Homo sapiens: one gene and its partners. The protein of the gene in region 4 interacts with the protein of the main gene of each other region in a pairwise test. Each region holds a gene or a part of one and is shown on either strand. Other genes may lie near its edges. The genes, in order: GRB7, CTNND1, BAG4 and KCTD6.

Region 1 (6,955 bases), on a different chromosome or scaffold from region 4:
AGCACAATCACAGCTCACTGCAGCCCCAACTTCTCAGGCTCAAGTGATTGTCACACCTCAGCCCCACCAAGTAGCTAGGACTATAGGCCCGCACCACCATGCCTGGATAGATTTTATATCTTTTGTAGAGATGAGGTCTTGCCAGGTTGCCTAGGCTGGTCTCAAACTCCTGGGCTCAAGCGATTCACCTGCCTCAGCCTCCCAAAATGCTGGGATTACAGGTATGAGCCACCATGCCTGACCCCTTCTTTTTTTTTTTTTTTTTTTTTTTTTTTTTCGTATGGAGTTTTGCTCTTCTTGCCCAGGCTGGAGTGCAATGGCACCATCTTGGCTCACTGCAACTTCCGCCTCCTGGGTTTAAGCGATTCTCCTGCCTCAGACTCCCGAGTAGCTGGGATTACAGGCATGCACCACCATGTCTGGCTAATTTTGTATTTTTTTTTTTTTTTTTTTTTTTTTTTTAGTAGAGATGGGGTTTCTCCATGTTGGCCAGGCTGGTCTTGAACTCCCGACCTCAGGTGACCCATCCGCCTCGGCCTCCCAAAGTGCTGGGATTACAGGTGTGAGCCACTGCGCGCGGCCTCCTGGCCTCTTATTAATGGTGGCTTTTGAAGTGCAAAAATTTTAAATTTTGACAAAGTCTAACATCAATTTTTTTCTCTTGTCAGTTGTCTTTTTGCTGTTATATTCAAGTTCTCTGCCTAACCCAAGGTCATGAAGACTATCTCCCATGGTTTCTTCTAGAAGTTTTATGGTTTTAGCTCTTACATTCAGGTATCTGATCTATTTCAAGTTTTTTTTTTCTTATGCATCCTGTGAGCAAAAGATCTAAATTCACCTTTTGGCATGTGGCTATCCAATTGATCACAGCAGCATTTATTGAATGCCTATCCTTTCCTCCATGAAATTGTCTTGGCACCTTGTAAAATCAATTGACCAGAAATGTAAGGGTTTCTACTTGGACTCTGGATTCTGTTCCATTGACCTATAAACGCATTCTTATTTATTATTATTATTATTTTCCCCCGAGACGGAGTCTTGCTCTGTCACCCTGGCTGGAGTGCAGTGGCACGATCTCAGCTCACTGCAACCCCCGCCTCCTGGGTTCAAGCAATTCTCCTGCCTCAGCCTCCTGTGTAGCTGGAATTATAGGTGCACACCACCATGCCCAGCTAATTTTTGCATTTTTAGCAGAGGCGGGGTTTCACCATGTTGGCCAGGCTGGTCTCGAACTCCTGACCTCATGATCCACCTGCCTCGGCCTCTCAAAGTGTTGGGATTACAGGTGTTAGCCACCGTACCTGGCCTTATAGTTGTTGTTGTTTTTAAATTCAGATACAACTTATACACAGTAAAATTCATCCTCTTGAGTGTACCTTTCTTTTTTTTTTCTTTTCTTGAGATGGAGTCTCGCTCTTGTCTCCCAGGCTGGAGTGCAATGGCTCGAACTCAGCACACTGAAACCTCCGTCTCGTGGGTTCAAGAGATTCTCCTGCTTCAGCCTCCTGAGTAGCTGAGATTACAGGCGTACGCCACCACGCCCGGCTAATTTTTGTATTTTTAGTAGAGACGGGGTTTTGCCATGTTGGTCAGGCTGGTCTTGAACTCCTGACCTCGTGATCCACCTGCCTCAGCCTCCCAAAGTCCTGGAATTACAGGGGTGAACCACGCACCCAGCCTTGAGTGTGCCTTTCTATGAGTCCTAAGAAACACACACATTTGTGCATCCAACCCCAAAACCAAGATACAGTATGGTCCCATCACCTCTCACAAGTCCCTGTGCCCCCTACTGTGGACCCCTCTCCCTCCTCCCCAACCCCAGACCTGGTTTTTGTTCACACAGTTCCACCCGCTCCAGAAAGCCATATAAGTTGATTCCTACAGCACTCCGCCCTCTGACTGTGGCTTTGTTTCCATCCCATCCTTCAATATCCAGGATGATCTTTCCAAAATGTAAATGTGCCCTCTCCTCTGTGCTTCTACTTAAGTCTAAATACAACTTGCAGGGTCTGGTCTTTGACCGCTACTCCTGCCCATCTGGACAAACAGGATGGATGGCTCTCAAACCTGGTTTGCAGAACAGCCACCTGAGGGCTTGTCAATACCACACCTTCCTGGGTCTTAGCCCTAGAGACTGAGATTCAGTTGCTGGAGAGGAGCCCAAGAATCTATTTTCCACACAAGGTTAGGGAGGTCTAGAGGCCACATTTGCAGAAGCACAGCTTCCTCTCTCCACACCTTCCACACCTGTCCAGGTTCACCCACGTGGCCTCTGCTTCCTCCCTTCTCCTCCAACCCCACTCTCTGTCTCCGCATGCTGCATCTCCTCCTGCCCAGAGCTCTGGCATTGATTTCCTCACTGGGGAAAGTGGCCTCCTTCCCCAATTCCCATCCACCGATTCCAACCCCCTTCCCATGTCAGCCAGCTTCTCCTCTGCTCAGCTGTCACCTCCACTGAGAAGTCTTTCCTGACTCCCTATGTGAGTCATTTTCCCAGCATAGTTGTCTCCTGTCATTTCTTATTTGTGTGATTCTTTGGTTAACATCAATCTTCCTGATTGGCTGTGTGAGGATGGGCGGGGTCTGTTTTTGTTGTTTACGCCTGTATCCCCAGCACAAAACATGGGGCTGGCATATGGTAGGTACTAAACAGATAGTTGAATAAATGAATGAGTGAATTGTCTACTCTGCCTTTGCACAAGCTGCTCCATCACCAAAGAGACCTTGCCTCCTCCCCCACTTCTTTGCTGGGCCCACTCATACCGGTTTTCCTAGGAAAACTCTGGAGAAAATTGAGGCAGGAGCCACTCATTCGTGCCCCTTCCAGGGTGGACCTCTTATCACCCTAAGGATTGTTTGTTTTCCTGTCACCCACATCAAGCTGGGTGGTGGCCGCAGCCTTTGATCTCCACCTCCTAACCCCTCTCCCAAGTACCCTGTGTTTGCCCAGCACTGAATGAGACAGCTAAAGTGATCCCTGAGAGAACTAAAGTGTTCCCTCAGGCCGGGCGTGGTGGCTTATGCCTGTAATCCTAACACTTTGGGAGGCCGAGGTGGGCAGATCACCTGAGGTCAGGAGTTCAAGACCAACTTGGTTAACATGGAGAAACCCCATCTTTACTAAAAATACAAAAATTAGCTGGGTGTGGTGGCAGGCGCCTGTAATCCCAGCTACTCCGGAGGCTGAGGTAGGAGAATTGCTTGAACCTGGGAGGCAGAGTTTGCAGTGCGCCAAGATGGCACCACTACACTCCAGCCTGGGTGACAGAGCGGGACTCTGGCTCAAAAAAAAATAAAATAAAGTGATCCCTCTAAGAGGAATCCCCAGGGGCCCAGGCCAGAGCTTTCTCCAGGTCACCATGGCTCCTCCCACTGTGCCACCCTGCCTAACCCCCTCGATTTTAAAGGAGAAGCCAAGACTCTGGACTTTGCTCAGAAGGTGGGGGGCGGGGGAGGGAGGGCTTACCCTGGGTACCTCTGAGGGGCCAGGGCGCAGCCACCACGGTAAGGGTGACTGCAGATCGAGGGGCAGGCCATGTTGCTGGACACCACCCTGGCTGGCGTCCCTCTCGGCAGGGTGCTCTTTGCCCCATGGGGTGGGATCCAGAGCTGCAGACAGGCCCCCAGGCTTGGCCAATGAACAGACCAGGTTCGGGGAGGGTGTTGGAAAAGAGTGGATGGGGTGGTTCCCCTTACCTTGCAGCCCCCAGGCCCTCCCCCCTCCCTCCCAGGTGGTCGGGACTCTTGATCTTCGCTCGTGGTACTGTCTGTTCGGCTGTCTTCCCCGCCTCTCCCCAGGCACCTGCATCCTCCCTTGGCACCTGCTGCCAGGCTAGGAAGGGCAAAAACAATCCCAGTTGGCGTAGTCAGGGAGTCTCCGCCCTCCTCCCAGGTTTCCTCCTCCCAGGCGCCTCCCCTGGACCCGCCCCCATCTGCCCAAGATAATTTTAGTTTCCTTGGGCCTGGAATCTGGACACACAGGGCTCCCCCCCGCCTCTGACTTCTCTGTCCGAAGTCGGGACACCCTCCTACCACCTGTAGAGAAGCGGGAGTGGATCTGAAATAAAATCCAGGAATCTGGGGGTTCCTAGACGGAGCCAGACTTCGGAACGGGTGTCCTGCTACTCCTGCTGGGGCTCCTCCAGGTAAGGGGACCGAGATCGGTCTCAGACGACAGCCTGCCAGGCAACCCCCAGCCGCACCAGGGCCCCAGGCTGTGCCAGTCTCCGGCTGAACTGGCCGGCGGCCCAGGTGGGAGGATTGGAGCCACCTGGCTCTCCCCCTCCCCCGCTCGGTGATGTCAGGCCAGGGGCGGGGGCTGGAGGGGGACAGGTAGTTAAGGGCCTGGCGTCTCCCTCCCTGAAGACGTGGTCCCAGCCGGGTGTCCTGACGCTCGGGGTTCAGGTAAGAACCCAAGCGGGCATTTATCCTTTGGGGGCAGGCACGGCCGGTCTGGAGGCCGGTAGGGAAAGGCTGGGTCTCCTGATGGGTTGCTTGGCCTCCCACTTTTCTCTTTTCTGTCCATTTCCCACCCTGCCCCCTCCTCCCCACCCGCCCTCTTTTCGTCCCCATCCTGGTTTCCAGCGCTCCTTGTTCCCTCCCTGTACACCTCCCTGCAGGCAGCAGCTGAGAATGGGAAGGAAGACCTGATTCTCTCCTCCGACTTGGCTTTCCCGCTGAAACTAGCCCCTCCCCGCACACCCGGGGAGAGCCGCCCTCACTCTCTGGCTCGCCCAGTTTACCCCAGTTTGGGTTTCCCCAAGTCTCTAAGACAGACGTCTCTGCGGGCTGCGGGGAGATGTGGGGAGGGCCCCCTCCACTTTGGAGGGCAGTGAAGGAGAGGGATCCTCTAAATTGTCGAGGCTTCATCTCTCCAGATTGTATGCCCTTCTCAGCAACACCGCCTCCGGCCCTCCGATGGGAAAGTGGAGGCCGGGTGAGACGGGGTCCCTCCTGGCTTCAGCATGAAATGGGCAGGAAGGCTGGAGGGGTGTATGAGGGGCTCTGCAGTGCGGTGGGGCCTGGGGAGAGTGGGGTGGGGGATAGCAGATGGTTTCTTCTGCTTGATGAGGCTAGGGAGAGACCCAGGTTCCCGGTCTGGGTCTCCCTGGCAGATTGAGGACAGAGAATGAATGCATCTGCCGGCAAGGTGGAACGCCCCCCACCCCGCCCCCCAACTAGCCGCACCGCCCCCCAGGAATGCCCTCTTTTGGTCCGCCGGTCTTGGACTCTGCTCTCCCCTCTCCTGATATCCTACTGTATGCTTGGTGGGGGGACCTCATGGAGGCGGGCAGCCTGTAATGATTAACTGCAGAGACACTCCAGCATTCTTCCCGAATTAAACTTTAAAAGAGCTGCCCCGCCTTCTCCCATTGGGTATTTTTCCTGAGTGAGAGTGGGCGGGGCCTCAGAGTCCTGGGTCCTCCCTTATACTAGGAGTCATCCAGGGGTTTCTCACCTTCTCACCTGGGCCCTGCACCCTAAAAAATTATAAGCCTCTCCCGTGGGGGCGGGGCGTGGAGTACTGGGCGGACGGGGGCTCTCCCGCCACATCCAGGCCCCTGGCCCAGGCCTCAGTCCCGCAAGCCCTTCCCCCTGCTCTGGGAAGCAGAGTTGTTTTCTGTTGGCCCTGAACACCGGGCCCCGCCACCTGCCCTTAGGGCCAGCCAGGTGGGGCGTGATTCAGGAAGTAAACAAGGAGGTTGGGAGGACGGGAACGCGGGTGGGGCTGGAACCACTGGGGGAGGAGGCAGCTGGGAAGCCACGGACGGAGTTACCTCGTTGAGGGGACAAACTGATTTTGGGGGTCGGTGTTTCCAACCGAAGCTTTACCGGGGCCTCAGTTTGAAAACTCCAGATCTCTAAGCTGCCAGGCCCACAGCCAGGACCCCTTCCTCCTCCCTGCTCACCCCATTGGTCTTGACGATTCCACCCGCCTCCAGCCTTAGAAGCTTAAGGGCACGGCTGGGGGGCTCTGAAGGCAAACCCCAGCCTTGGACTGGCCCTCTCTGATCTCTGAGGCCAGGCTCTAATGTGATTTGAATCTACTTCTAACCCCTTCCAAGCACTGCCCTCCCGAATTCTCTGCTCCTCTCCCCACCCCACTGTTGGTCTGTGATTTCGAGGCAGGCGTGGCCCCCTGCAGCCTGGAATGAAGTCACTGGGGCTGTTTGGAGACCGGGGCTGTTTGGAGGTTAGACTGGGGTGGGAGTGGGGGATTGTGTTCTGGTATTGAGGTGCTGGTGTCTCTTGCTAGCGGGTGATGGGTGTGTCGTGCCCCTCCTGGCAGGACCCTGAGCCCCCTCCCTGGCCTTTCATCCTGTCTGTCTTCTTGAGTGTTTTCCCTTTCCACTCCTGCTCCTGTGGTACCCCTCTGGCCGGGACACCCAGGAGAATGTGTCAGGAGGAACTTCATCCACACAGGGCAGGGGCTCTGAGCGATGCTTTGGGTGGGGAGGGGCACCGCCGGGATGCTGGCTTCTCTCCAAATGGGCCTCTGAATCCAGGCCGGGCATTGCCTCTCTCCTTCCCAGGCGAGGGACTCCCTGGCGAGGAGGTGGTTTGGGACTGGGGGTGAGAGCAGATCGTAGGTCCCACCTGGCCTGGAGCTAGGCCGAGGGTGGGGAGGAGGAGGTGATGTCAGGAGCCTCAGGCCCACATCCTCCTCCCCCATCCTGTTCCCAGCCCCGTGCCTCCCCCATTCCGCTCTGGCTAGCAGTGGGTTGGGGAGTTGGGGGAAGGGTGGAGGCAGGGCTGTTTTTGTTTCTCCTAAGCCAGGAAGTTGTGTGGATGAGTCAAGGTTGAATGGAGAGCCCTAGGCAGTGTTGTCCCGCCCGCCCTGACTCACCTGTCCCCCAAATCCCCTGATGCCCTCACTGAAGGGTCAGGTGCCTGCTCCCTCCTGAGGGGTCAATCCCAGGTGCCCCAGGTGGCCTCATAGTACTGGCCCAGTGTT
Region 2 (7,820 bases), on a different chromosome or scaffold from region 4:
TAAATGGCCATCCTATCCAGGGCTTCAAAAATGACAAACTTTGATTGTAATGTGTAACCACCAGAGGGTGGAAAGGAGTAAAAATATTTTGTTTTTCTTTGTATGGATAACCAGTGGGGTTTTTGGAGTTGAATTTTTAAAATTTCTTCTTGGCATTTATAGTTTTAGCCTATTTTATTTTATTATTTATTATTTTATTTATTTTTGAGACAGCGTCTCACTCTGTCGCCCAGGCTGGAGTGCAGGCGCAATCTTGGCTCACTGCAACCTCCACCTCCTGGGTTCAAGCAATTCTCCTGTCTCAGCCTCCCGAGTAGCTGGGACTACAGGTGCAACACCACACCTGGCTAATTTTTGTTTTTTTAGTAGAGATGAAGTTTCAGCACATTGGTCAGGCTGGTTGGGAACTCCTGATCTCTGGTGATCCACCTGCCTTGACCTCCCAAAGTGCTGGGATTAGAGGTGTGAGCTACTGCACCCAGCCTTATTTTATTTTTGAGACAGGGTCTCACTTTGTGGTCACCTAGGCTGGAGTGCAGTGGCACAAACACAGCTCACTGCAGCCTTGAACTCCTGGGCTTAAGCAATCCTCCTACCTCAGCCTCCCAAATTAGCTGGGACCACAGGTATGCACCACTATGCCCCGCGTGTATTTTTAGTAGAGAAGGGGTTTCACCATGTTGGCCATGTTGGTCTCGAACTCCTGACCTGAAGTGATCCACCTGCCTTGGCCTCCCAAAGTGCTGGGATTACAAGCATGAGCCATCACACCCGGCCTATTTTAAATGTTCATTAATTTTAAATACCTTGACCAGGCATATATAACTAGCAAGCTAAGAGACTTTATTCACTCATTTAGTTGTTGCTAAATATGAGTTACAAGGTTGAGCTCTGGGGATAGACCATGAGCAAAAAAGACACTATTCATGGAACTTTTTTTTTTTTTGAGACAGAGTCTCACCCTGTCACCCAGGCTGGAGTGCAATGGCACAATCTCAGCCCACTGCAACCTCTGCCTCCTGGGTTCAAGCGATTCTCCTGCCTCAGGCTCCCGAGTAGCTGGGATTACAGGTGGTGTGCCACCAAGCCCGGCTAATTTTTTGTATCTTTAGTAGAGACGGGGTTTCACCATGTTGACCAGGCTGGTCTTGAACTTCTGAACTCGTGATCTGCCTGCCTTGGCCTCCCAAAGTGCTGGGATTACAGGCGTTGAGCCACTGCGCCCAGCCCATGGAGCTTATCTTCTGATGGGGGAGACAGAAGTATACATACACACAAATGAAAACAAAAGAAAAAGGAAGACAAAATACTTGCAAGTTGTGAGTAGTGATGTCTTCAACAAACAAGACCAATCTGTCTGTAGAAAATCATGTAACATTCTAGTATGTGGCTTTGATCTCGGAATCAATGAATCAACAAACATTTTTGGGCTGGTTGTTTTCCTTTGGTGATTATCTTTGGCTTTTGAACTTGCTATGGAGGACTAGGAATTGATGGGGAATAGAGGTAGAAAATGTGATAAAAGGAGAAGATTTTTAGGTAATGAGGCTTAAAGGCTGTTCATATCTTTGTTATAATGTATTCATTTTCAGCTGTAGTTTATTTAAAGCCCATCAAACAAGTGCTGTAATGCATGTTTGGTTTTTCAACACTTCTGAGGAAAGTCCTTTTTGGCCACTATAGACCAAATATAGGTCTATGAGACTATAGACCATATATATAAGGGAGTGGATAATGACTACATCAGCATGATTAAAAGCACATTCATGCTGAGTTGTTGAATTCTAGTTTATCTAGGTAAAGAAAGGTCAGATTATGGTTGATAATGTGTTACTTTAATGTACTGAATGAATAAATGTGGTGCCTTCAAAGCAGATGATAGTCCCCTACCATCCCAGTCAACATACAGTAGTCCTGTTTCTAGGATTTCTCTTGACCTTTATCTTGACCATAGTGTAACGTAATAGAAAGAGCATGGGCTGTGGAGTGAGACTGGTGAGGGTTCACTTAGCCAGATGAGATCAGGCAAATTTCTTCACCTTATTGGACCTTGATTTCCTCATCTGTAGAATGGTTGTAGTACTATTTCTGTGGTCATGTTTTAGAAGTTTGAAGTACTGAGCTCAAAATACCTCTTACATGGTAGACACTTCATCATTGGTTGCTATTATTGGGCAGTGGCTCACCACTGCAAGTTTTTGGGCAGGGTAGTTACTGAATAATAAAAATAATGATAATGCATTCTTAGTGAGTTTATACTACATGCCATACATTAAGAACTTTTGTTTTGAACCGGAGTCTCGCTCTGTTGCCCAGGCTGTAGTGCAGTGACACGAGCTCAGCTCACTGCCTCCCGGGTTCAAGCGATTTTCCCACCTCAGCATCCTGGGTAGCTGGGACTACAGGTGTGCGCCACCACGCTTGGCTAATTTTTGTATTTTTAGTAGAGACGGGATTTTGCCCTGTTGGCTAGGCTGGTCTGGAACTCCGGAGCTCAGGTGATCCGCCTGCCTCGGCCTCCTAAAGTGCCAGGATTACAGGCTTAAACTACGGTGCCTGGCCCAAAGAACTTTTTGTGTATTTTAATTCCCACAACAGTCTTGTGAGAGAGATATAGTTATCTCCATTTTATAGTTAAGGAAACTGAGGTTCAGATTATTTAATTTGGGTCAAGGTCACATAATAGTACATATATTTGAGTAAGTGTACTTACTTACAGAGGTGGAGTTTGAAGCTAGGCAGTTTGTGAAAACCTATACTCTTAAAGTTTCATATTTCTTTCTTTTTTTTTTTTGAGACGGAGTTTTGCTTTGTCACCTACACTAGAGTGCAATGGCATGATCTCGGCTCACTGCAACCTCCACTTCCTGGGTTCAAGCGATTCTCCTGCCTCAGCCTCCCGAGTAGTTGGGATTACAGGCACCCACCACCATACTCGGCTAATTTTTGTATTTTTCGTAGAGACGGGGTTTCGCCATGTTGGGTCAGGCTGGTCTCGAACTTTTGACCTCAGGTGATCCACCCACCTCGGCCTCCCAAAGCTCTGGGATTACAGGTGTGAGCCACTGTGCCCAGCCAAGGTTTCGTATTTCTATTCTAGATTTTGATAACTTGATGAAGACTCATTTGGCAGCAGTCTATAGGGTAAGTTTTAGATTAGTAAGAAAGAAGAAGGAAATCTTTGATTCATCATTGTCTTTGTTTTAGTAATCAGGGAATAACCATAAAATGCTAATCTTTGTCAAGCATGTTAAAAAAAAAATCCAGCCTCTGTCCATCATGGTCTAACAGTTTAAAAATATGTCCTAACTCAGAAAAATAATACCCCAATAATCCTTTATTTAGGTCAAATGTAAAAAGAGAATGTATAAGCTAGATCATCTTAAGCTTGAAGTTCACAAAGAAATAAAATGTTCTTTTTTTTTTTTTTGAGACAGGAGTTTCGCTCTTGTTGCCCAGGCTGTAGTGCAATGGCACAATCTCAGCTCACCGCAACCTCTGCCTCCCCGGTTCAAGCAATTCTCCTGCCTCAGCTTTCCGAGTAGCTGGGATTACAGGCATGCACCACCACGCCCAGCTAATTTTGTATTTTTAGTAGAGACAGGGTTTCTCCATGTTGATCAGGCTGGTCTCGAACTCCTGACCTCAGGTGATCCGCCCACCTTGGCCTCCCAAAGTGCTGGGATTACAGGCGTGAGCCACCGCGCCCGGCATAAAATGTTCTTGACATGAGATTTACTTTCTTTACCTATGCTGTTATTCCCTCTAAATATATTGCTTGTTTATTGGATTTCATTTCCTCTTTCCAACAAACCCACATTATTTTGATTTGGGGACAAATTGGGAAGACAGTGATTTTCTTTAACAGCCCAGTGGATTCTGCTTCCTTCTAATTCAAAGTATGGAGATTAAAACTGTTAACAAGTCTAGGCATTAAAAAAAAAAATAGCTCTAGATGGGGCGTGGTGGCTCACGCCTGTAATCCCAGCACTTTGGGAGGCCGAGGCGGGTGGATCACCTGAGGTCAGGAGTTCGAGACCAGCCTGACCAACATAGAGAAACCCCGTCTCTACTAAAAATACAAAATTAGCTGGGCATGGTGGCACATGCCTGTAATCCCAGCTACTCGGGAGGCTGAGGCAGGAGAATCGCTTGAACCTGGGAGGCGGATGTTGCGGTGAGCTGAGATCGCACCATTGTACTCCAGCCTGGGCTCGAAACTCCATCTCAAAAAAAAAAAAAAAAAATAGCTCTAATGCAATTAATCCAAAACAGTGAAACTGAGTTTACCTCAGATATCCCCTACCATCCCAGTCAACATATAGTAGTCCTGTTTTTAGGATTTCTCTCTCCTTTCTTTCCCGTCTTCCTTTAGGGAAATGCTTTGGGGTAGGAAGCAACAAACCAAACAGCAGCAGGCAAGTAAAATCAGCTCTTTTCTATTTCCCCACTGGGATAGTACAGAAGAGGGAGCAAGAACTCATCATCAAAGAGAACTGAGACTTAGGCGTACCATTCTAAAAAGCCCTTGTTCCTTGTCTCCCTTGCCTCTTCCGCCCCCCTCAGCTCTGCAGTAATTCCTCAGAGATTGTACAGTCTCTCCACTTTAAATATAAATATATAAATATAAATATATATATGTATAAACTTCCCCCTGTCTTTCTCTCCTCTCTTTTTTTTAATTTTCTATAATAAAGTTTCCTATTGGATAAGGTCAGCTCCCTGATTTATGCCTGGTTCCTATTGGAAGCTCACAGGGGCTGACATCACTTAGGAAAGCGAAGGGGGTAGGGCTGCCAGATCAGTTTGTCACCACCCAGGCTCCCTTGCCTTTGGCTGGGTGCAACTTCCATTTTAGGTGTTGGATCTGAGGGGGAAAAAAAAGAGAGAGGGAGAGAGAGAGAAAGAAGAGCAGGAAAGATCCCGAAAGGAGGAAGAGGTGGCGAAAAATCAACTGCCCTGCTGGATTTGTCTTTCTCAGCACCTTGGCGAAGCCTTGGGTTTCTTTCTTAAAGGACTGATTTTTAGAACTCCACATTTGAGGTGTGTGGCTTTTGAAGAAAATGTATGTACTGACGGGAAAAGGAGGATAAGCAAGTCGAATTTTTGTCTTACGGTAACCGGAGGGAATTAAAAAACGGGAGAGTCTGTTATGCTGATGAGTAACTTTTAAGCAATTATTTTTCTTTTCTACTTTCAGTACTTTGGCGGGGGAGATTTTGGTATTTTATTATATTTAAAAAGGTAAAATATACAAGACCTAGAAACAAACTTCTAGGTCTCTTTAATACAGGAAGCTGAATAGATCCAGAGGGGTAAGAGCAGGTTTGAAAATTTACATTTTGGTGTGTTCTTTGATTTTATTTATTTATTTTTCTGGATTAAGCTAACATATTTCTGTTTTCAGAGCCCAAATCAAAAGTTGGTTTTTTGGCATGTTGCATGTGGGTTGGGAAAGAAATTTGTCCGTGTCGGAACCCAGTTATACCGATGGTTCTTCATATGTTTAAAACTTTTTTTTTCTTTTATCATTGGATTTGTGGAAGTGGAAAGTTGCAGGGAGCTTTGCAGTGTAAATGGTATTGTTTTTCCCCCAGAGAGTTTGAACGGCCCGTATCGGTTTCAGCCCTGCTGTTCCTGGGTGGATCCCTCTTACTTTTCCAGGTGCGGTGGGTGGGAGCCTCATTCTCCTGCTAGATGTAGTCTCCCTTCTTTGGCTTATAAAAGAAAACAAATGGAACCATGTTAACTGAATTGCCATCTCCTTCTTCCTTCTAAACTACCTTTGATAGCAAAGATTTGTGGAGGTGTTTGTTAAATCTGCAAATACGATAACGTTTGGTTTATGTGTTTAAAGGGATAAGGAAATTCTAATCATGCTTTTTATTTCACCTGAGTAAAGTGGCAACATACCTGAAAATATTTTCAGCTTTTTGCACTCTGAAAGGGCCAAGGGTGGAATAAAATTAGGTTTAGAAAAACCATTTATACAAAGTTTAGTGTTTAAAATACATTTCAGAAAACAAGGGAGATTTTTATTTTTAAACCAACCTGAAAGTTGTTTTTTGGAGTTGAATTTATTGTTTAGTTAATTTACCATGAAATCTGAAATCTCTTAGAGCTGAAGGCCCATGACTGTGCTTTCATATCTTATATTTAATCTTAAGATTTGTTTTGTTTTTGCAAATACATTCTTGCAAAAGTACGGATTCTAGATAATTATATAGCCAACTCATCAGTAGCTGAAAAACTAGGGTATTCTCTTCTCTTTTTGAAAATGTGAATCCGCCTGAAAATTATAGATGCTGTCCTAATTGTAACAAGATGGGCTTTAGTGTGTAAGCTGCTCATTAGCTTTAAACTGGTATGGATCTTTAATAATCTGATTTCGTTCTCCCCTCACCCCCCTGCCACAAATTTTTTTAAGACTAGACTTCCTTGAATTTCTTTTCTAGAATGAGGGTATTTCTTGAAAGACGATTTCATCCTTGTGAAGTTGTGGCTTCAGGAGGAAACAGAACTTTGTTCCTCCTTCAAATACAACCTAGGCAAAGGCTGCAGGAAATTTTTGATGTCTGAATCTCATAATTATAACAAGTACAGTTAAAAAGAAAGAAAAAATACAATGTGTATAGGCTGTTGAACTGTAGTTCTTGTTTAATATTTTCCAAATTTTCTTTCAAATGTTCTCTCTGCCTTGACTCCAGCCTGGGGAGGTTTCTTGGATCTTTAGAGTGTTGGTCATGTTGCTTCCAGAGTGTCTGTTTCCCACTCAACCTTTAGGGGGAGGGATGAGGGAATCTGAAGGAGGAGTACAAAGGCAGTTTGAAAATAGGTTCTGGATGACTGAGTGGTGGTGATTTGGGTCTAGCTTTAAATAGTGGGCTTTGTGTAGCTGAAGTGAGCATCCTAGTTAACCTAGTGTCCAGGACTATTTCCACGAACTAAGGGTTGTTTTGACTGGTGTGTAGTACAGAGCCTTTGGGGTGATAAGATGGAAGATTTGTCTTTTACCTCACCTCCACTGGTTCTTTCAGGAATTATAAGGGATGCAGATAAGTAAATCTTTTATTTTTTAAATTTTTTGTTTTGCTCATTGTCTTGGTTTTGGGGTAAAAAATGATGATAGGTAAGTATGAGCTGTTCAGATATTTCTTTCCTTGTTTGCCTCCTATGTACGGTTGGTTTCTTTGTTATGTGAGTAAGGTAGTGGTCTGTGTTCCAGATTGCGGGGCGGGGGGGCGGTTCTCTTTTAGGTGGTTGGAGTTCTAGTACCTTTCTCAGGGTTCCAGCATGGACAGTCAGAGAAGCTCCAACATGTTCTCTGAGCTAGGGTAAAATTGAGACTATTGGTGATATTAACAAAAAGAAAAGCACTAAGTAATTACAATCCAGCCTTAGGTTTATGAAGTAGCTGCTCTCCAGGGATGAATGAGATAGGATGGATGCAAATAAATTAAGCATAGATCACTATCAATTGGAATAACAAAATGATTAGCTTTGTATAATTTATCTCCTTCTATTTTGGTACCCTGTTAGTAACTGCCAAGGCCCTCATTCCCCCCTACCTCCCCACACCTTGTTTTTAGTGTATTCTAAGCATTTTGCATAAACTATTAATTTCCCACCACTGGTTTTTTTGTTTGTTTTGTTTTTTAAGGAATTTGACCCTCAGAGAAGCTGAGGTTTGGTGAAAATCTCACTGCCTGTAAATGGTTGAGGCCAGGATTAACCCTGGTCTGACTAACTACAAAGTCCATGGACTTAACCACTAATATACTGCCATTCTCCAGAGAGAATGGAAACAACAGCTCGAACTA
Region 3 (5,974 bases), on a different chromosome or scaffold from region 4:
GACTCTTGTCTCTAAAAACAAAATTTTTTGATTAACAAAAGAAAAACTCAGTTGAAAGTGGTTGCCTTTAGAGAAGGAGAAATGGGGGTGGGATCAGGAGAATGCTGCCTTTCATAGAACTGACTTTTTAAACTCGTAACTTCTACGAATTGAGGTAAACTCCTTACTTTTTTAAAAAAATAAGTAAAAAAAAGTAAAGTTGTAAAAGAAAAGCTCCATCAACTATCCATCCCCCAAAAACTTTTTTATGCCTATTTAATCTACATTCTTCAAAATTTTTTTAACCTGCCTAGCTTTAATGGTATTATTTACATTAACCAACTGAAAAACTGTTTTCAGAACCCCATTTTTAAAAGCATTTAAAAGAATTCTGCACCAACATGTGGAGACACATATAATCCAACCCCTGTATACTTCATTAGGGCTTATTTGTTTAAACAGTTTCATTGGCATTCATACTTGGAACAACAGAGGGTTATTATAAAAAAAAAAAAACATAGTTGTGTTTATCATGCCAGGACTGGGTAACTTTATTCAAGACTTTGACAAAATGATCCCCAAAGTAATATAAATGTAGACACTTTAAAAAGTCCAGATGTGAAATTTCAAGAAAACTTTGAATTCAGTCCAAAGTCAGTATTAAGTCAAAAGTTGAACCAATTCTACAAATCATAAATACTATTTTCCTTCTTAAGTTCATATATTTTCTGAGATAGATTACCAACTTAGTTTTCTTTGATATTGGTATTTGGAATAATTTTAACATGATTTAACATCTTTAAGTTCTAAATCTATACTTATCCTGAATATCTTATTATAGTTAAAAATATAAATCCAGAACTGACAACTCTTCCTTACAGAAGAATTCCAATAATAAATGTAGAAGGATTGAGAGAAATAGAAAATCACCATTAGAACACCACAGTAGTAACTGCCACAAGCAAGATCTGCCAATGGATAGTAAAATGAGCAAAAGTTTAAGCAGAAACGGGACATTTGCATAGTCTCCGGGTATCTCCAGCAAATATTCAATAATTACAAGGAAAACACAGTAAGTTTACAGTAGCGAATCCTAGCAGACACCACCTTAGCATAGTGATCAAGGTTAACAACACCAGAAATACATTACAACATCAGGTATCCCCTGTTATGATACACTGTCACAGACTGGAAGACAGGACGTAGGCATGATAGCTAAATGCAAGGCTGGGTCTTGGAACAGTAAAAGGACATTAGTGAAAAGACTAAAATCTCTACTTTTTAAACTTTCTACTTTAGTTAGTATTATATCAAGGTTAATTTCTTAATTTTGACAAATGTTCTATTGTTACGTAAGATGTTAACATAAGGGCAAGGTGGGTGCAGAGTATACAAGAACTCTACTACTTTTACAACTCTTCTGTAAGTCTAAAATTATCTCAAAAGCTTAAAAAATAACTGTTAGAAAACAAACATGTATGTGCATAACATGTGTACATATATATAAATCAAGACTTCATGGAAATTGGCATCTTGGGCACTCAGTCAGTAAAAGAATAGTGTTCTCTTCTGAATTATTCATTGTCTTACTGGTAGCTTAGCTTTAAGGTCCTCCCCCTTCTAGACTTTTAATTTCAAGTATAAATTTCTAATTTTCATAGAAAAGCCTTTTTTAAACATTCCTATATTAGGCCAAAAATAAAATCCTAGAATAAAATTATCACCATATTATCTTATAAAATCACTCATCCCAATCATAAGACCCAGCCAGTATTTTTACTACATTTCCTCTCCTCATCTGTTTGTATTGGTTTGGTTTGGTTTATGAGTGGGGACAGCTAATAGATTTAGTATTTACTCATAGGCCTGACAGTCTAGGGGAAAAAAAATTATCACTTGGGTATCTTATGAAGAAACAGCTATTTTTCCAAGAACCAATATTGTGTACTCACCTCAGACATAAAAAGTTATTTACCTAAGTCTCTTCTATCTAACAGCATAGAGTTACCCAAACAAGGCCAATAAAGACCCTTTCAATATCCTTTTCTTAAATTTGGCTCTAAAATGACTGTTAATAATGGTAATAAATGTCTTTTTATTAAACAGACAATTTTATCTTATGCAATTTAGGGAAATAAACATAAAATCTACCTTTAAATGAAGAAAATAATAATTTCCCACTCTAACTATGGCTGATTCATTCCCTGAGCATGAATCCCATTTTACCCTCATTGTTTTTAACTATAAACTGAGCTGAAATCTGCTCACAGGTGAAACTAGTATTTTAGATGGAGAATGATATTACCAAGTAATCATATTTATTACTTTTTGTAGTAATTATTTCTACTCACTGTGGCATTTAATGTTTCATCTGTAACTCTCTATCACAATGCCCTCTATAGAAGCAGCAATAGTGAAAACATAACTACACTTTGGGGAAAAAAAAAAAAAACAGGAAAAAACAGATAACTTTTAAGTGGATCTTTATCCAAATACAATAAAAAAGCAAAAAAGAAAAGTGTCCGTAAACATTTTCATTTTATGTCAATGCCATTTCCAAATTTACCTTCCACTACTACCATGAACAGCAGAAGTGGTAAAAAAAAAAAAAAAAAAAAAAGAAGAAAAAAACTCTAACCTAATGATCTATAGAAAAAGGGAGACAATTTACTCACTACACATTGCAGTATATTCAAGTGGTGAAAAGATATAAATTTTTTCAGAACTGCCATACTATCTGGCTGTCAATATAGTCTCTTGAATAATTATATTAAACATATTACTACAAAATGTACCAAGAAGTAGAGAATAATACTATATTTGTAAACTGCAAATAACAAAACAAAACAGAAGTCCAAGAAGGCTAAAGTCTAAGCTATAATTACACATGAAGTATATGTTGAAAGCAGTCACAATGTACAAAAATGTGACAAGATATCCAGATGTTTAAAAAAACACATCCTGTTTGTCTCAGATTATATCCAGTTTCATCTGGTAGGTTTCTGATAAGCCTGTTGTGTGAAGTGTGTTTCCCTCCTGCTGGTAAGAAGCAGCTTGTAGATATCCATAAATTTTTTAAGGAGTGAGTCTACTTGGCAATATTGGTAACTCCATAGTTTCCTATTACATTCATTCGTCTGAAAACTGAAAACAACTCATGACTAAAATATTCTTCCATTCCTTTGCCAGTTTTTCAAGTATAAAATCAAAGGAAAGCTGGAATGTATTGCTTCTTGTCATCAACAGGCATTTCAAAAAGAGGGTAATTAACCAAATCAAGTGTTCTTTGGTCAAGTTAGTAACAGGCTTCCACTTTGTTCTAAATCCTTTCATAATCCTTTTTTTTCTAATTTTTCCAGTATGGCCTGAATCTTACAAACAGCCTCTTTTCTGGCCTGCCGTACAGAGTCCTGGCCCCCAGTTTCAACTGAATCCAGTTCCAAAAGTTCCTTGGTTAGCATTTCTTCCAGAAGCCAGTATGCTTTGTCTGTCTTTTTTCCTACAAATTCTTCTACTTCTTGTTCAAGATACTGGACCTTCTCCAGCACATGTATGATTTTTTTAATACTCGGAGGAGTACTTTCATCTGAAGGTACACATTCTTCAGGAAGACTGCTACTTTGATCTTGATTGTTGGGATGGTCACTGGTGGCATTACCATACAGCTGAGGCTCAGCACTATACTGGACTTGGGAATCCAAAAGATCTGAATCATCATTGTTCACTGTCCCCGAGGATTCGTACTGATGGACACTGCAAGGAAAGTTGTGCCGGTTCATGCTTTGATCTGATTGGCTATAGGGGTATGAAGAATCCTTGGAGTGGGAGAGCAAAAAGAGGAAAAGAGCTGTTTTAATGGGAATGCATCAACATCAAATTTGTTAGCCCACATCTTTCACTTGACCAGAAAGGTACATGAAAAGATTCCCTAACAATAAAATTGGACCCCTCTCCTTAATCATTTGCAAAAAAACACAGTCCTAAGAAGATAAAAGGGAGTGCCCTGTCAGACAAAAGGCACAGAATTTTTGAGTTATAATGGCTGGAACCTGCCCTGTGGCAGGTCCATCACCATGAGCACCTCATAGTCCATCCTGTGACCTAATTAATAAGAATTAGTTTTTCCCCTAAAAGGTTAAAAACCTCAAGCAAGGTCTTGAAAAGGAACACAGCCACAAGTGATAATGTTCAAGTCTGTGGTTTAAATACAAGCTCATGCTACAGATATTTCACATTGGTTTTGTCTTCTGTTCATAGATTATTTGAAGTAGTAAAATGCATCTTTGCATTTAACGTTTAGAAGAATTACAACAAACAGAAAATGTGTATCTTTCTGTCTTTTAACAAAAACGATGTGAATCTAAATCTTCTCTAAATATAAAGTCTATTAAAAAAAAGAAAAAGGAAACCGAGCTGAGGTAAAGCTATAGATAAGTAGTCACCAACTTTTTGTAATTAGTCCCCATTTAACACAAACCAGTACAGAAACTATATAAACCATGTTATGTTCTCCTAATTACACACACATTAAAGGAACAACATTTAGGTCTCCTACCTTGGGCTGCTGGACTGGGGGTGAAGGGGGTGACTGGGGAGAGCCACTGCTAGGCCATGGTGAAGTACTTTCAGTCATGTAGAGATTGCCGGGTGGTGCTGAGGGCGCTGATGAAGGCCAGGGATAACGGCCACCCATTCCATAAGCACCAGGAGAAGCCCACGCATCTTCTTGTGGTCGTACAGTCGGTCCTGATTGTGGAACACTACGATTACCATCTCCATAAGGATAATGGGGCAGGGTCATTCCAGGGTTCTAGATTGAGAAGAAGAAATATACCAGTCATTGTGAAAAACTTATAATAAAAATATTCTGCTACAGGCAGATTCTGAGATGCTTCCTCTCTTCTTAACAGAGTATACATTAGCTGCTACCGGACTAAACTGTAGTAAATCTAATTAATCAGCTGCAGTAATTTCTCCAAGCCTCAAAAAGTTGGTTCCAAAGATACCAGGGGTAGATTTAATGACAATAAAACTCAGAAGGAATAAGGCCTAAAAATTCAATGGATGAAACCCAAGTCTGTCCCATAGATACTATAAACAAACGGACCCATATGCTATAAGGAAGCACAAATAAAGACATGTTAGAACTCCTCTTGAAGTGAACAGAGAAATAAACATAGTTATTCACAGAATATTAAAAAAACATGAACCTGGCCAGGCGCGGTGGCTCACGCCTGTAATCCCAGCACTTTGGGAGGCTGAGATGGGCGGATCACGAGGTCAGGAGATCGAGACCATCCTGGCTAACAAGGTGAAACCCCATCTCTACTAAAAATACAAAAAAAATTAGCTGGGCGCGGTGGCGGGCGCTTGTAGTCCCAGCTACTCGGGAGGCTGAGGCCGGAGAATGGCATGAACCCAGGAGGTGGAGCTTGCAGTGAGCCTAGACCGTGCCACTGCACTCCAGCCTGGGCGACAGAGCGAGACTCCGTCTCAAAAAAAAAAAAAAAAAAAAGAACCTAACAGGGTGCTAAAAAAGGCTAAGATTTGCCTGGCACGGTGGCTCATGCCTGTAATCCCAGCACTTTGGGAGGCCGAGGGGGGCAGATCACGAGGTCAGGAGATCAAGACCATCCTGGCCAACATGGTGAAACCCCATCTCTACTAAAAATACAAAAATGAGCTGGGCGTGATGGCGCGTGCTTGTAATCCCAGCTACTTGGGAGGCTGAGGCAGAAGAATTGCTTGAACCCAGGAGGTAGAGGTTGCAGTGAGCCAAGATCACGCCACAAAAAAAAAAAAAAGGCTAAGATAGGGAAACTTTCAAGCAGCAACTCTCTAAAGATTACTTTCAGTATAAAAATTTATGATTATGACCTTCAGCCAAAGTCCATTTACTGCAATAGCTGCCACAAATAAGAAAGGCATCAATATAAAAGCCTTCCCAATCTAGAAGTGTCTTATTAAATCAGCACTAGTATGAACAGATGCTCTT
Region 4 (7,027 bases):
AAAACCATCTTTAGTTTTAGTAAGGAAAGTCACTATAAAGGAAAAATTTTTTATTGTTACCATTCCTGGTAGATTTTCTGAAATATTAGATATTTCTTTGCTTTCATCAAGTAAAATAGGCCTATTTGATACCCATTTCAAGATCTTCCTTCTGCTGCCTGTCTTGTGGTCATTTAACTTCTCATTAAGCCCTCCACTGGAGACTGTGCCAGAAGGGAGAGAAGATGAAAAGCAAATGAATCATTTTCTAATTGTTAGTAGCTCTGGAAAATGATTCAGTAGAAGAGATTGAAACTATTCTGGAAATTCTTTGGGATTGTATTTCATTCATCTGCATCGTTTCAGAGATGTTCCTAATGGTCGTCAATTCAGAATTCAGAAGCCGATCATTATCCAGCTATTGGATAACAGGGAATTTTTCATGCTTTTTTTTTGTTTGTTTGTTTCTTGCTGTATTTAAGCATCTCCACAGAAGATATTTAGAAGCAGGTAGAGATAAAATTTAAACTAATCAATACTGTTTTTTCCCTTTGAACTCTTTAATGCACAATTTGATTTCTTTAGACAGTTTACTCATTGTTATTGGAAGTGACTAATAGTAACTTTGCTTCAATTTATTTTGATGTATCTTATACACAAGTATAGGAAGGCTTTTGGGTGGTTTTTAAGAAACATGGGCTGTAGATTCCCATAATTGCTTTCCTGAATTATTAAGCGTGAGCTTTCATTACATCTTTGTACCGGAACTTTTGCTTTTGCTGTGGAACAGATTCAGGGACATCGTCTAATTTTTTTTTTTTTTTTTTTAGATAACTGCTCAAGAAGTTACCTTGTTTTGATTTAGCAGTAAAAAAGAAAAAAAGGGTTAATAGTGGACAGACTTTTCGTTAACGGCTGCAACATTGATGTCTGCTTTTTTCCTTGTCTTTGATCTTCTGTTTCTCATTTAATCATTTGGATATTCACGGATTGGAGTTCTTTATGTCACTACAGACAGGACAGCAACCGTTATTCACACTAGTTGAATGGGTTCCTGCCTTTTTTTGGTGGGGGGGCCTCAGGAGAATTTTTACAAACCCATTATGACTGTTTAGTTAGGCTGAGTTACTGTAAAATTTGTAAATAAAACCCTACTGGATGGATAGGGTTAATAGATGGCTATAGAGAGTTTAAAGTTAAGCTTTTTCAATTTCTTGTCTCTTGGATTCTGTTCTTTCAATTTCTACCCTAGGAGGGGATTTATGGAAAAATCTAGACTAAGAGTCAGAACATGCAAGTTCTTATCTAGTTACTTCCCAGCTGTGGCGCCCTCAGCTAGTCACTTAATCTGCCTTGTTTCTCTGTTTTGCATCTTTAAGATGAGGATAGTAATCCCTGCTCGGCCTACTGGTATCAGGAATGTTGTAGGGGGAAAAAAAGTCTTTCATGCCCCTGTCTATTAAATTGTTTCTTCCTTCTAGAATCCCTTCTCAGGTTGTCCGAATTTTCTTTCAAGGATTCAACTGAATGGGCTCTTCCCAGAAGTCCTCTATTTCCCATTTGAAATCTTGCTTTTCCCCTCTCACGGGCCTCTGCTGGTCCATCTGTTATACAGCACTTTGAATTCTGTTCTGTACTTCAGTCATTGCATGTTGCCTTCCATTATAGATGGAAAGCTCCATGAGGGCAAAGATTGTCTTTTTCCTCTTTCTGTGTGTCCGCATTGCACATAGGCACCCCCTCCACTCCATAGGTGACCCACAATAATTGTTGGCTGAATGAATGATTATTGAGGCTGTCAGAATGAATACTTTGGGTGATGGGAAAATGCCAAAGATGAGCATCTTACCAGAACTTTTGGATGAGTGGCCTTTTAAATTGCTCAGTTACTAATCTGTTGTTATCAGTAACTGAATCAGATCCTGGCAAGACAAATTGGCAAAGCCCATTTCTTGGTCCTGTTTACTTCGGATACTATTTGTGAAGCAAGTCAGAGGAATGAAAGACTGTCATAACAGTCTTGAATTTGACATTTGTTCCATTTCTCACCCCATAGCATGTGGAGGCCTGTCTATATCCAACTGCTGAGTGTAAAGAATAAAAACTGACTGCCCCATAGTCTGGTCCACATTTTAGTTGTGTGCTTTGAAGGATTTGCAAGGTAGAGAAATAGATGCTTCAGGCTCTGATTTCAGCCCATGCTGTGCTATGCAAATGTTCTCTACATGCCTGAGTGACCTTTTGAGAAAGAGCCTTTGTGATCTTCTGTAGCTAGGGCTTGTTCTGGGAATTCTGTGCCAGATTCCTCTAAAAGTGGGAAAAGTGAATCTGTTAAAGGACCACGTAAAAAAGCCAGTGCTTTTCCTGGATGAATACCAATAAGTCCATGTTTCTTACCATGTCTTGCCAGAGCTTTAGAAATTTGCTCTGCAGTTTGCTTTACAGGTTGATTTGGGATTGAAGTGTGTGAGAGGGAACTGACTAAGGCAGTTCAGTAGCTGGGAAACTGTTTGTTTAAATGCTTTTGAATTGTAGATAAAAATAAATTCACATTGGCATCATTAGTATCTGAGCATTTCTCAGTGTCTTAAGGCTGGCTCTCCATGAGTGCTGGCTGATTGACTCTCATCTATATCGGTAAGGTTCTTTTTGCCCCAAATTGTGCTCTTTAACACTTCGGCATTTAAATCACTTTCTATTTGTTTTAATTGTACAAAGAGAAATACATCATTATTTAAAAGCATCATCTTTTTTTTTTATATTGTAAGATAAATACCATTCTGATGTATTTCTCTTGGAAAGGGATGCTGGTATCCTGGGAGGTTTATGATTTTTGATGTTTTTACTCAGGTGATTGGCTTGTATAGCTGAAATGCTGATGAAAAGGAGTTTTCCCTTCTCCCTTTTTCTTTTCTTTTCTTTTTTTTTTTTTTTTTGAGATGGAGTCTCGCACTGTTGCAGGGGCTGGTGTGCAGTGGCACAGTCTCGGCTCACTGCAACCTCCGCCTCTCGGGTTCAAGTGATGCTCCTGCCTCAGCCTCCTGAATAGCTAGGATTACAGGTGCCCACCACCACGCCCAGCTAATTTTTTGTATTTTTAGTAGAGATGGGGTTTCACTATGTTGGGCAGTCTGGTCTTGAACTCCTGACCTGGTGATCCTCCTGCCTCAGCCTCCCAAAGTGCTGGGATTATAGGCATGAGCCACTGCGCCCAGCCTGTCCCTTTTTCTTAAATGACCTTTTTGGTGAGGACCATTATAGGTTTGTACCAGGATAAGGTTGTAGAGTTAATCATAATATTCTCTTATATAAATTCTAAAAATTGATGTTCTAAGAAGAGAGGTAGAATTTGAATGACTGGGTTACTTCCTAGACTCTTCCTCCTTCTCTTAAGTACAGTATAGTTCTTTCTCTGAAAATCTTCAGTCTCTTAGTTCCAGATGGGTTCTCTATGGTAAGAATACAGGACATGTAGAAGGCCCTAGGGGAATGCTTTCTTCCCCAGATCTTTGCCCTGTAGTAGGTTTCAGCTGAGCAAGGACGAGTAGTTTTTCTGGTGTTTGGCCTCCTCTGTTGGGTGGAAAAAGACTTTCTTCTCTATTTTCCTAGTTATATATGCTATCATATGTCTGTTTTTCTCCTCTTGAAGTTTCCCTGAAACCTGGGCTCTTGAAGACGCATCACTGGAGCAGATGGATAATGGAGACTGGGGCTATATGGTGAGTGCTTCTTGGAGATGCATTTTGAAGGCTGGGGAATTATTTTTGTGTGTCTTTTTATCCTTATGTATTTTTAGGTATATCTTATAAGAAAAGAAAATTGTGAATTTGTGTAACCTCTCTTCCCCCTTTTACTTAGTTTAGATGTATTTTGGAGGCGTTTTTGTCTTGTGTGGTGTTTTTTAAATTTTTATTTAATTTTTTTTATGTGGAGTCTCGCCTTCTTGCCCAGGCTGGAGTGCAGTGGCGCGATCTTGGCTCACTGCAACCTCCACCTCCTAGGTTCAAGAGATTCTCCTGCCTCAGCCTCCTGAGTAGCTGGGATTATCAGCGTGCACCACCACATCTGGCTAATTTTTGTATTTTTAGTAGACACGGGGTTTCACCATGTTGGCCAGGCTGATCTCGAACTCCTGACCTCAAACGATCCTCTGCCTTTGTTTGGTGTTTTAATGGAATCAAACTCAAAATGGATTTTCCAAATACTTTTTATAATCACTGGAGAGGTAACGTGATTTTTTATTTTTTCAAGTGTGTTGCTCTGAAGACTCTTTCTTCATGAATAGTGACTACAAAGGGATCTAGTGAGTTTGGAGGATATTTTGTTGTGGTTTGGGAGATTAATGGTTGAGAAAGTGCCTCTTCTCCCCACTTGCATTTTTTGTGTGTGCATATGTCTCCCTATTTTTCTATTCCTTTGGTGTAAGGTATATTTTACTTGCCTATACCTGAAGTCTCTGTCTGCCTTTCTTTTTTCTTTCTTCCTTTTTTTTTTTTTTTTTCGAGACAGGGTCTTGCTCTTTTCCCTAGGCTGGAGTGCAATGGCGTGATCTCGGCTCATGACTTTCCAAGCTCAGGTGATTGTCCCACCTCAGCCTCCTGAGTAGCTGAGACGATAGGTGGGCACCAACATGTGTGGCTAATATTTTGTATTTTTTGTAGAGATGGAGTTTTGTCATGTTGCCCAGGCTGGTCAGCAACTCCTGGGCTCAAGTGATCCACCCTCCTTGGCCTCCCAAAGTGCTGGGATTACAGGTGTGAGCCACCACACCTGGCCTATTTTTTTCGTAAATAGTATTTCTAAAACTGAAGGTATGTTTTTTAAGAGAAGCTTGCTTCTCAGAATTAAAGGCCAGATTGCAGCATTAATGTTACAAAAGTGAATACACTATCAGATTATGAAATTTTATGGCTGCTGTAAGCTTTTGGGTATGTGATGCTTTTCTGGCTTGGTTGTATTGACTAAACTGTATATTTTAACTTAGTATTTGAAAGTATCACTTCCATGAAAAAGTTACCAAGATTAGGTCTGCACAGTTTTTAATTTAATTTAAATAATTTTTTTTTTTTGGAGACAAAATCTCTCTGTGTCGCCCAGGCTGAAGTGAAGTGGCATGATCTTGGCTCACTGCAGCCTGTGCCTCCTGGGTTCAAGTGATTCTCATACCTCAGCCTCCCAAGTAGCTAGGACTACTCAGGCCACCACACCCAGTGAATTTTTTTTTTTTTTTTTTTGTATTTTTAATAGAGATGGGGTCTTGCCATGTTGCCCAGGCTGGTCTTGAACTCCTGAGCTCAGGCAATCTGCCTGCCCCGGCCTCCCAAAGTGCTAGGATTACAGGTATGAGCCACTGTACCTGGCCCAAATTTTTATTTTAAAAACAAATTTCATAGTTTGTTCCTTTTGTTTGAGGGGGAGAAACCAAAGAAATATTGAAAGTAAATGTCTATATTATCAGATCATTTTAATTCTATCTAATGTTAAATTAAATTCAGAAAAATGCAAGCCTTAAAAAAAAATCAGAAAAAAATAAGTGTATTTTAGCGTGGCTTTTCCCTTCCCACATATATTCTGGCCTGAAAACTCTATAGATAATGGGCCTGAAATGATTTGGCTCTGGAAGTCAATGCCCTGTATTCTTAGCATAAGTCTTTAAAGAGAAATTGGATTTCTCCTTTTTTTTTCTATTGAAAGCAAATGTTAGATCACTTCATCTGGGTGGGTTTATTGCTGGTAGTAAAGTCATTTTGCATTAGAGGATTACTAAATACATTATAGCCTGAAAGAATCTTGGGCTTTGCTCAGTATCACTTACTTTCTTAATTTGTCAAAGTTAGTATTTAAAAATTTCAGATGACTGATCATTTCTTTACAAATTTCAGATGACTGACCCAGTCACATTAAATGTAGGTGGACACTTGTATACAACGTCTCTCACCACATTGACGCGTTACCCGGATTCCATGCTTGGAGCTATGTTTGGGGGGGACTTCCCCACAGCTCGAGACCCTCAAGGCAATTACTTTATTGATCGAGATGGACCTCTTTTCCGATATGTCCTCAACTTCTTAAGAACTTCAGAATTGACCTTACCGTTGGATTTTAAGGAATTTGATCTGCTTCGGAAAGAAGCAGATTTTTACCAGATTGAGCCCTTGATTCAGTGTCTCAATGATCCTAAGCCTTTGTATCCCATGGATACTTTTGAAGAAGTTGTGGAGCTGTCTAGTACTCGGAAGCTTTCTAAGTACTCCAACCCAGTGGCTGTCATCATAACGCAACTAACCATCACCACTAAGGTCCATTCCTTACTAGAAGGCATCTCAAATTATTTTACCAAGTGGAATAAGCACATGATGGACACCAGAGACTGCCAGGTTTCCTTTACTTTTGGACCCTGTGATTATCACCAGGAAGTTTCTCTTAGGGTCCACCTGATGGAATACATTACAAAACAAGGTTTCACGATCCGCAACACCCGGGTGCATCACATGAGTGAGCGGGCCAATGAAAACACAGTGGAGCACAACTGGACTTTCTGTAGGCTAGCCCGGAAGACAGACGACTGATCTCCGACCCTGCCACAGGTTCCTGGAAAGACTCTCCAGGAAATGGAAGATACTGATTTTTTTTTTTAAATCACAGTGTGAGATATTTTTTTTCTTTTAAATAGTTGTATTTATTTGAAGGCAGTGAGGACCAGAAGGAAGTTTTGTGCTTTGGCAGACTCCTCCATGTTTTGTTCCCTTCCCCCTGAGTATGCATGTGCCTGTTCAGAGTCTCCAGATACCTTTTTTATAAAAAGAAGTCTGAAAATCATTATGGTATATAATCTACCCTTAACAGAGCTTTTCTTATTACAGTGCTAAAATGATTTCTGATAAAATGGTCCCTAACTCAACTAGAAGGCTAAAAATACAAGAATGAAAGAATAAGCAGAGTACTCATGATGCCTTTGAGAAAAATCAAAACATCATGTAGGGTGACCTAGTTTCCAAACCAATAAATAAGTAGTATTGTAATATTAAAGGAAAACTGTTCCAATCAT

Evidence for each region.
Region 1: the proteins of KCTD6 (region 4) and GRB7 interact in binary tests that used the Homo sapiens proteins (3 or more experiments, as listed by UniProt).
Region 2: the proteins of KCTD6 (region 4) and CTNND1 interact in binary tests that used the Homo sapiens proteins (3 or more experiments, as listed by UniProt).
Region 3: the proteins of KCTD6 (region 4) and BAG4 interact in binary tests that used the Homo sapiens proteins (3 or more experiments, as listed by UniProt).

What each region holds. Positions count from the first base shown.
Region 1 is NC_000017.11:39,733,989-39,740,943, forward strand, and holds the start of GRB7 (growth factor receptor-bound protein 7), read left to right. Parts: upstream 1-3,949; 5' UTR 3,950-4,145; intron 4,146-4,363; exon of another isoform or gene 4,364-4,404; intron 4,405-4,782; exon of another isoform or gene 4,783-4,917; coding exon of another isoform or gene 4,918-4,936; intron 4,937-5,978; exon of another isoform or gene 5,979-6,193; intron 6,194-6,955. UniProt on the Homo sapiens protein: Adapter protein that interacts with the cytoplasmic domain of numerous receptor kinases and modulates down-stream signaling. Promotes activation of down-stream protein kinases, including STAT3, AKT1, MAPK1 and/or MAPK3. Promotes activation of HRAS.
Region 2 is NC_000011.10:57,757,004-57,764,823, forward strand, and holds the start of CTNND1 (catenin delta-1), read left to right. Parts: upstream 1-4,798; 5' UTR 4,799-5,116; intron 5,117-7,820. UniProt on the Homo sapiens protein: Key regulator of cell-cell adhesion that associates with and regulates the cell adhesion properties of both C-, E- and N-cadherins, being critical for their surface stability.
Region 3 is NC_000008.11:38,207,828-38,213,801, reverse strand, and holds the end of BAG4 (BAG family molecular chaperone regulator 4), read right to left. Parts: intron 4,790-5,974; coding exon 4,535-4,789; intron 3,795-4,534; coding exon 3,309-3,794; 3' UTR 501-3,308; downstream 1-500. UniProt on the Homo sapiens protein: Inhibits the chaperone activity of HSP70/HSC70 by promoting substrate release. Prevents constitutive TNFRSF1A signaling. Negative regulator of PRKN translocation to damaged mitochondria.
Region 4 is NC_000003.12:58,495,085-58,502,111, forward strand, and holds part of KCTD6 (BTB/POZ domain-containing protein KCTD6), read left to right. Parts: intron 1-3,280; exon of another isoform or gene 3,281-3,628; 5' UTR 3,629-3,671; coding exon 3,672-3,698; intron 3,699-5,861; coding exon 5,862-6,548; 3' UTR 6,549-7,027. UniProt on the Homo sapiens protein: Probable substrate-specific adapter of a BCR (BTB-CUL3-RBX1) E3 ubiquitin-protein ligase complex mediating the ubiquitination and subsequent proteasomal degradation of target proteins.